Homo sapiens: one gene and its partner. The protein of the gene in region 1 interacts with the protein of each later gene in a biochemical or structural test. Each region holds a gene or a part of one and is shown on either strand. Other genes may lie near its edges.

What was found. The genes of interacting proteins can lie anywhere in the genome.
Region 2: the proteins of SIPA1 (region 1) and SLCO1C1 interact in a test that uses a peptide from one of them, tested with the Homo sapiens proteins (one large-scale study listed by IntAct).

The regions. Positions count from the first base shown.
Region 1 is NC_000011.10:65,636,796-65,640,900, reverse strand, and holds the start of SIPA1 (signal-induced proliferation-associated protein 1), read right to left. Parts: upstream 2,801-4,105; 5' UTR 2,719-2,800; exon of another isoform or gene 71-2,718; 5' UTR 1-70. Other genes in the region: PCNX3 (pecanex-like protein 3), read right to left, coding at 3,923-4,105. UniProt on the Homo sapiens protein: GTPase activator for the nuclear Ras-related regulatory proteins Rap1 and Rap2 in vitro, converting them to the putatively inactive GDP-bound state. Affects cell cycle progression.
Region 2 is NC_000012.12:20,750,609-20,753,886, reverse strand, and holds the end of SLCO1C1 (solute carrier organic anion transporter family member 1C1), read right to left. Parts: intron 3,213-3,278; coding exon 3,095-3,212; coding exon of another isoform or gene 2,992-3,094; intron 1,582-2,991; coding exon 1,359-1,581; 3' UTR 501-1,358; downstream 1-500. UniProt on the Homo sapiens protein: Mediates the Na(+)-independent high affinity transport of organic anions such as the thyroid hormones L-thyroxine (T4), L-thyroxine sulfate (T4S), and 3,3',5'-triiodo-L-thyronine (reverse T3, rT3) at the plasma membrane.

The DNA of each region.
Region 1 (4,105 bases):
GGGGGCTGGGCCGCATTGGCGGGCACGGGTGTTTGGTGCCCAGCCTGAGGTTGTGGCAGCAGTTCCTGCCCTGAAGGAGGAGGGGGCTGCTCAGAGGGGCCTGGGCAGAAAACAGGAACCCAGGCCCCCAGCCTGGTCCTCCACCACCCGTGTTGGCTTCCGGCCCCCTCCGAGACCATCAAAGCTGCTTCCGCTTTCCAGGCCACTTCCTTGTCTGCCTAGGGCTAAAGTTTCCAGCCCCCTCCCCAGCTTAGCTGGGCAAGGCTAGAGGCTGGGCTGTTGGGTCTTGGTCCTGAGGGTCCTGGAGCCTGGGCAGCCCTGGGACTGCCAGGGTCCCCCAGTCGCCACCCACACACCTTAGCTTTGGCCTGGGCCCAGAGTAAGGGTCCCACCAGGACCTAGCCCAACCGGACAGATGACTTGTATTGGCTGGGACGGGAAACCCAGGGGCCACTGGTGTCTGGGTCCTGCCCACTTAACAAAGGGAGGACGTCCTGTCCCCAGAGACCTTCCTCCTTGCCCCTCCCACTTCCTTCAGGGTCCCTGGAGAGCTGATCACCCAGAGAGGTCTGATCTCAGTGCCCTGGACCTCAAGGCCTCAATACCACAAGGACACATGGGTTCCCAGGGAGGCAGCGGCAGGGCAGCAGGAATGGCAAGAGGACTTCCTTCAGCACAGGAAGTAGCCCCAACTGTGGGCCCAGCCCTCTGCCAGGCCCCCACATCCTGAGGAAGGTGCTGGGGTCACAGCAGCTGTCATGGGACCCCAGTCACCCTGCCCTGAAGGACAGGCCAACTCACCTTCTTGCAGGCTACTGTGCCCAGGCTTGGGGGCAAGAGGAGTCACAATGACAGGGACCCATAGGGACCTCTGCCTACCTGGTCTCACTGATGCAGACAGGGAGGTCTGAACCCCATGTGACAGATGGTCAGATGAGGTCCAGAGGAGATGCTCTTGCCTGAAGCAATTCCGTGTCAGAGCTAGGATGTGAGCCTGGGTCTGCCCATCTCCAGGCCCTAAGCAGGGCTGCACCTGCCCACTGCTGTCTGTGTGCGTAGGTTTTGGGGGGTGGGTGTTGGGCTGAGGTTCAAGGTCTCACAGGATGCAAGATTGAGACACCCAAAGCCCCAGGGACCTGCTAAGTGCGGAAACGTGACGCCAGAGGCAGGTGCAAATGGTGGTGTGAGAACTTGAGGGAAGCCACACCCAGGCAAGCCCTGGATGGAGTAGGCAGTGAGGACAGGGAGCTGGGGAACCTCCACTGGGGGTACAGGCATCTAATGGTGGGTCTTCATGCAGCATCCAGCAACATCATGCGGGGCTGGGCCGGAGGGGGGTGGAGGAGGGGCTCCACACACCCTTCGTCTGGGGCCTCCAGAACCAAGCAAGAGTCGGCTCCCCAGCCCAGGTGCTTCTACCTTGATTTCTCCTGAATAAACTCCCATGCTGACCTTGAGCCTCTGTTTTCTCATCTCTAAAATGGGGTTAACTGGCCGGGTGCGGTGGCTGTGGCCTGTAATCCCAGCACTTTGGGAGGCCAAGGCGGGGGGATCACCTGAGGTCAGGAGTTCAAGACCAGCCTAGCTAACATGGTGAAACCCTGTCTCTACTAAAAACATAAAAATTAGCCGGGTGTGGTGGTGCGCACCTGTAGTCCCAGCCACTCAGGAGGCTGAGGCAGGAGAATCGCTTAAACCTGGGAGGCAGAGGTTGCAGTGAGCCGAGATCGCGCCACTGAACTCCAGCCTGCGGGACAGAGTGAGACTGTCTCCAAAAAAACAAAGAAAAAAATTGGGTTTAATTATTTCTGTCCCCTCCCAAGGCTGCTGAGAGACTGAGAAGAATGAGGTGAGTGTCGCTAGCTATGTGTGTGTGTGACGGGTGTAGCCCCTGGCTCCATGAGCCAAGCTCTGGGCACATTCAGCGCTCGGGCCTGGGCTATAGTGTGTGAAGGAGTAGGAGGGCATGAGGGAGGGGGTCTGTGCAAGCCCCGCTCCTTGTGGGCTGAGCTCTGCACGCTTGGAAGTGAGATCTGTGCATGTGTGCACCCAGCCTGTGCGCTGCCTCTTGCTGTGGCCCAGTGCCAGGCTCTGGCGCTGCCTTGAGGGGTGTTCTCGGGCTCTGCCCCCCACCCTGAAGCTTCACACAGGGTCCATTGAGGCTAGGACATTCCTCCGGGCCTGTGTCACTAGGGGTGGGGGGAAAGGGCCGGCCCCGCCCCCACAGATCCGGAAGGCCTGGCTGCCCCAGGAGGAGGAGCTGGCCACTTCCCAGCACATCTGGAGGTCATGACCCCATTTCGGCTGCCAGGGGGCGCGACAGATGTTTCCTCCCAGGCCAGGCCAGGGACTGGGGTGGAGGCCGCCTAAGAAGAAGAGGAGCCTCAGAATAAGGGGGAGCCCCGCACACACTTGCAGTGTTGAGGGGGAGGGGGTCACAGTGCCGCCACCAGGAGTCAGGAGCCGCCGCTTCCACTCACCGGCTGGCTGGCCAGGCTAAGCCGTCACACAGAGAGAGTAGGAACGGCTGGTCAGAGACAGGGGGCTGGACATATTGACTCGGGACTGAGCTGGAGCCCGGAGGGAAGTTGGGAGGGTGCTGGCGGCGAACGTGGCGAGGACCCCACTCCCATACACATCACCCGGGCCCACGGCTAGGCCACCTCTCCCCTGTCGGGCCCGACAGTAGTGCCTCCCGTCCCCTGCTCCCGCCAGTACCTCTGGGGCTCCCGCCCAGCCGCCGCCGCCCGCGCTGGGGTCCCGCTGCCGCTCTCCCGCTACCGCTCCCGGCGCCGGCTCCGCCTGGGGGCGGGGCCATGCTGGGAGGCGGGGCCATGCCGGGAGGCGGGGCCGGCCGGGAGCTGTCTGCGGCGGGAAGCGCAGCAGCGGGGATTCCAGGCCTGGCGGAGGTCAGCACCGAGCAGTGCTCATTCTAAGGCCATTTCCTCTCCTGAGAAACTTGTGCCTGCCTTCCAGACCAACCGGGAGGGCTAGCGGAGGCCACCTAGCGTCCAGCTCCCGGCCAGCAGGTGCTCAAGAGTCTGCCACTATTTTATGGAGCACTTGCTAAGCACTGGGCCCTGGGCAACCATTCCACTAGCGCGCTCTCATTTATTCTAAAAACACCTTAGATAGGTGTCATCTCTTTACGCCCTGGAGCAGCTGAGGTGCAGAGAAAGGCTTTGGCCAAGAACAAGCCTGATAAATGTAGGAGCCACCAGACCTGGAAGTCTGACCATATGGTGGGAAATGGCAGACAATACCCTTCAGATAAAGGCTTGAAAAGGGAGCAGCCATGCGGTGAAGAGGACCCGGTTCTACCTGAACCCCACCTTGGTCTGCCCTTGATCTCTACTAGACTTCAGCCCCACATCCTTCACCCCTCTGCGTGCTTGTCCATCCCAACTTAGCCGCCTGTACTATCATGTACCCATTCCCAGGTAGAAAAAGAAACTGCCAACCAAAATCAAAAATAGTGTTATTAATTCTGATGTCTCCGAAGCACAAAAAAAAAAAAAAAAAAGAAAAGAAAAAAAAGGAAAGAAAGAAACCACCCTTCCCACAATTCAGGCCCCAGGTCCAGGCCAAGGGGGCCACACCTGCAGGCAGTGCAGGCCCAGGGGCTGAGGTGGTCCTGGCCACAGGCTCCAAGTGGGACCAGCCCATGGTTTGGCTCTTAGGGCCTGGCTGGGAGGCTGACTGCCTCCATCTGGGGAGCCCAGGCCCTGGACTGGGGATGAGAGAGATCAGGGGTCAAGGTCAGAGGTCTGGGTCACTCAGTTTTGGTACTCTGGCCAAGGCAGCCAAAGGTCAGGGTTCAGACATGTAGGCCAAAGCCACTCAGTTCTGTGGTCCAGCAGAGAGGCAGCAGAGCAGGTCCGTTACTGAATCCTAGGAGGTGGTCCAGTGGGCGCCAGGTAGCTCAGTACTGGTGTTCCAGCAGGGGCTGGGCTGCCGGGCTCTCACGCTCCTCAATAGGGGCAGGCCAGTCGCCCAGGGCACCCATAGGTGTGCCACTCTCAGGGGCACTGCTGTCCAAGCAAGGAATGTCCTGGGAAGCTCTGGGGGGTGAGGCCTCAGTGCTGACATCGGGGCTGAGGCTGAG
Region 2 (3,278 bases), on another chromosome or scaffold:
CAGAAGAGCATCAGGAAGTCAGGAAAGAAGAAACTCTTGGCCGGGCGTGGTGGCTCACACCTGTAATCTCAGCACTTTGGGAGGCCGAGGCGGGTGGATCACGAGGTCAGGAAATCAAGATCATCCTGGCTAACACGGTGAAACCCCGTTTCTACTAAAAATACAAAAAATTAGCCGGGCATGGTGGCGGGCGCTGATAGTCCCAGCTACTCAGGAGGCTGAGGCAGGAGAATGGCGTGAACGCGGGAGGCGGAGCTTGCAGTGAGCCGAGATCGCGCCATTGCACTCCAGCCTGGGCAACAGAGTGAGACTATGTCTTAAAAAAAAAAGAAAAGAAACTCTTGGCTTGACTTTTTCAGTTGCAGAGAAACAGAGCTATCTGGCAGGCTGTCCCAGGGGGAACTCCCTGTGCAGGAGTCCCTAGGCCCTGTGATGTGGGCCTGTGGAGCACCAAAAGGTACCACACTCAGACTTCCCATCAATTCATCCATCACTCTCCATTCCTGTTGTAACACCTACATTTATTGTAGACTTTCAGAAATTCACCTTTCAAACATGTTTTAGGAACACGTCGTGTATAAGTAGGAAGTTGCTTACATATATTAAAGTGGGGCAGTATTATATTTAACAATAGTTTTAAATTCATTGGATTCATAAAAGAACAATAATTGGGCATGTTAACATCAATTTTATTACTTTACAACCATAGTCACTTATAGCGCCACACAAAAAGCACATGTAAATTAATAGTAGGAGAGCTATTAATTCAAAATTCTAATCCCCAATATAATTTGCTGCTACACATTTCTATATAAATTATTGTATTTCAAAGAAAAGGAGGAGCTTAAAATGAAATCTTCCTCTCCATGTTCTGCTCCATCCTAAGATCATTATTAAAATACACAGATGAAGACAGCTATGGGAGAAAATACTATAGGAGTAATACTTGAAGGAACCCAAGGTATGAGTTAATTGTTAGCAGTATTTGCTTACTCTAGACACATTACACAGTTCAGAAATTACTTTAAATATAACCATGTGTGACAATAGAGACAATTGTTCTTCTAGGAGTACAGCTAATATATATCAATGAGCACAAAGCAAAATAAAGTGAAATAAGTAAGTGATATAAAATAATTTATATAAATTAAAAAGTTCAAAATTAGTTTTATCATCTGCATCTTCCATTATATGTTTCAGTATATTATCAGTTATATTACCTAATGCCTAGGACCAAAACAAAGTAGACATTTTTTGAAAGGAGAAAGAAATTACAAATTTAGAGCTCTTTTGATTACAATTTATTTGTTTGCAAAATGTCAACCAATTAGAAGACATGACTTCCAGTCATCATGTTTCTAAAGTTGAGTTTCCTTGCCTGGCCAGTAGTTGGGTTGTAGCAGATGATCACTTGTAGTGTAATTTTCCTTTTGGAATCTTGTAGACACCATTGTTCTTTCTCTCTTGGTTATAAAACTTCTGTGTTTTGAAACATAATTTTTCTTTAAAATGAAAAGTACTGCAATGCTTAGGAGAATTGACACTGTGCCCAGTATCACAGTTAGTCCCAGATATATATGTCTAGAAGAAGAGAGAATCTCTGTTATAATTAATGCAACAACCAACTTGAAAGAAAATTTAAAAGGTAATAATATCATACTGATGGTTTTCTTTAAGAATGTAGATTTGGTGGCTTATATAAAAGACTGTTTTATGAAATACTGACAGACTGTTGAAGGCAGTTTATAAAATAAAGCAATGTCTTAGTAGCACCATCATTTTTAGTTACTACTAATTACATAATCAGTTTCATCCTCTCTGTAAATTATTTCCTTAGACCAGGTAACCATATCCCTGTTTGCCTAGAACAGCCCCAGTTTATGCTAGTGCTGGCCCAGTATAATTTTAATAGTGCTCCTTTTCACACTCAAAAGTACCCAGTTTTGAATGATAAATTATGTGGCTACCCTATCCTCAGACCTTTCCCAACTTCATTTCTTTGGAAAACTTGCATAAAGAAATGCTAATGGGAATTGGAGCTCTGAGTAAAGCAGAATGATTTCAGAATAAACCAGAGATTTAAATCAGTTTATTTCATGAGAAACCTATAGTTCTATGCTTTGTCAGAAGATGCTAAGGTATGGAAGAACAGGTTGAATGTCTCATTCTGGTTACCTTGAAAACATACTCTCAATCTCTGATTGAGTTGCATTGTCTCTACATTACAGTTAATACAGCCTTAGCAAAAATGTGAGGAAATACTAAATTATACTCACAGATTGGGTCCCTTTCAAAGACCAAAATAAATTTCACGCATAGCATCAAAACCTATTAACTCAAACAAATTTATTCAAAATGGTGTGCCCAATTCACATCCAACTTAGATGGTTCAGTACCAAGTTTATTTCTCCAGAAAATGCTCAGTTTGTAAGTCTTTTAAACAATCTTTCTTGCTTTTAAGCCATTGCTTCAATGCTTTTTGCATTTTTTTAAGCAATAAGGGACTAAATGTTTAATGAGCTGAACTGAATGATACCATAGTGAAAAAGCCACGCCACCCAACCCCCATATACACTCACCCACACAGAGAAAACCTTTTACTTTCATGCATTTCAAGTACGAGAATAATTGAACATTAGTTTGGCAATAAAAGCCGGACAGATTTAGAGCCAAATCCAACTCTTGCCCAGGGGTATTATATCTGACGTAAGTGGTACAGTTTGGCTCAGTTTGAAAAAGAATAAAAATCAAACCCAAAATGTGACCTAAATTTAAATGCCTCTGAATTTCAGGGAAATACTTGCCCATTTGTGTGCATAAACTTTCAAAATTCTACTGTATTCTGGACACTTTTGTCATATTTTAAAAATGATTACTCATTTAAAATGGGGGTCAAGGTAATGAATAGGGACAAAATCAAAGATCTAATCAAATAATAATATAATTATTCTATGACTACAGATCACACTTTTTGATTAGACTATTCTTTACCTTACAAGCAGTGAAATGACATGAAAACTTGTTAGTGTCAGTGGCATTGTGTAAATCTGGGATGCTGTAGCAATGAGATGCGGGAATGCTTTTGATTTGGTACCTGAAGACATTTGAATCATATAATCTGCATGATCCTCTACTTCCACATCTTTTAAATCCCCATTTGAGGCATGAAGTATCAATCAAAACTCCAAAATACACTGGAGCTGGGATTCCTGCTGTGAGAAAAACAAATAATTGCTGTTAAAAACATATGCACATCTTTTTGTCTATGAACGATTATC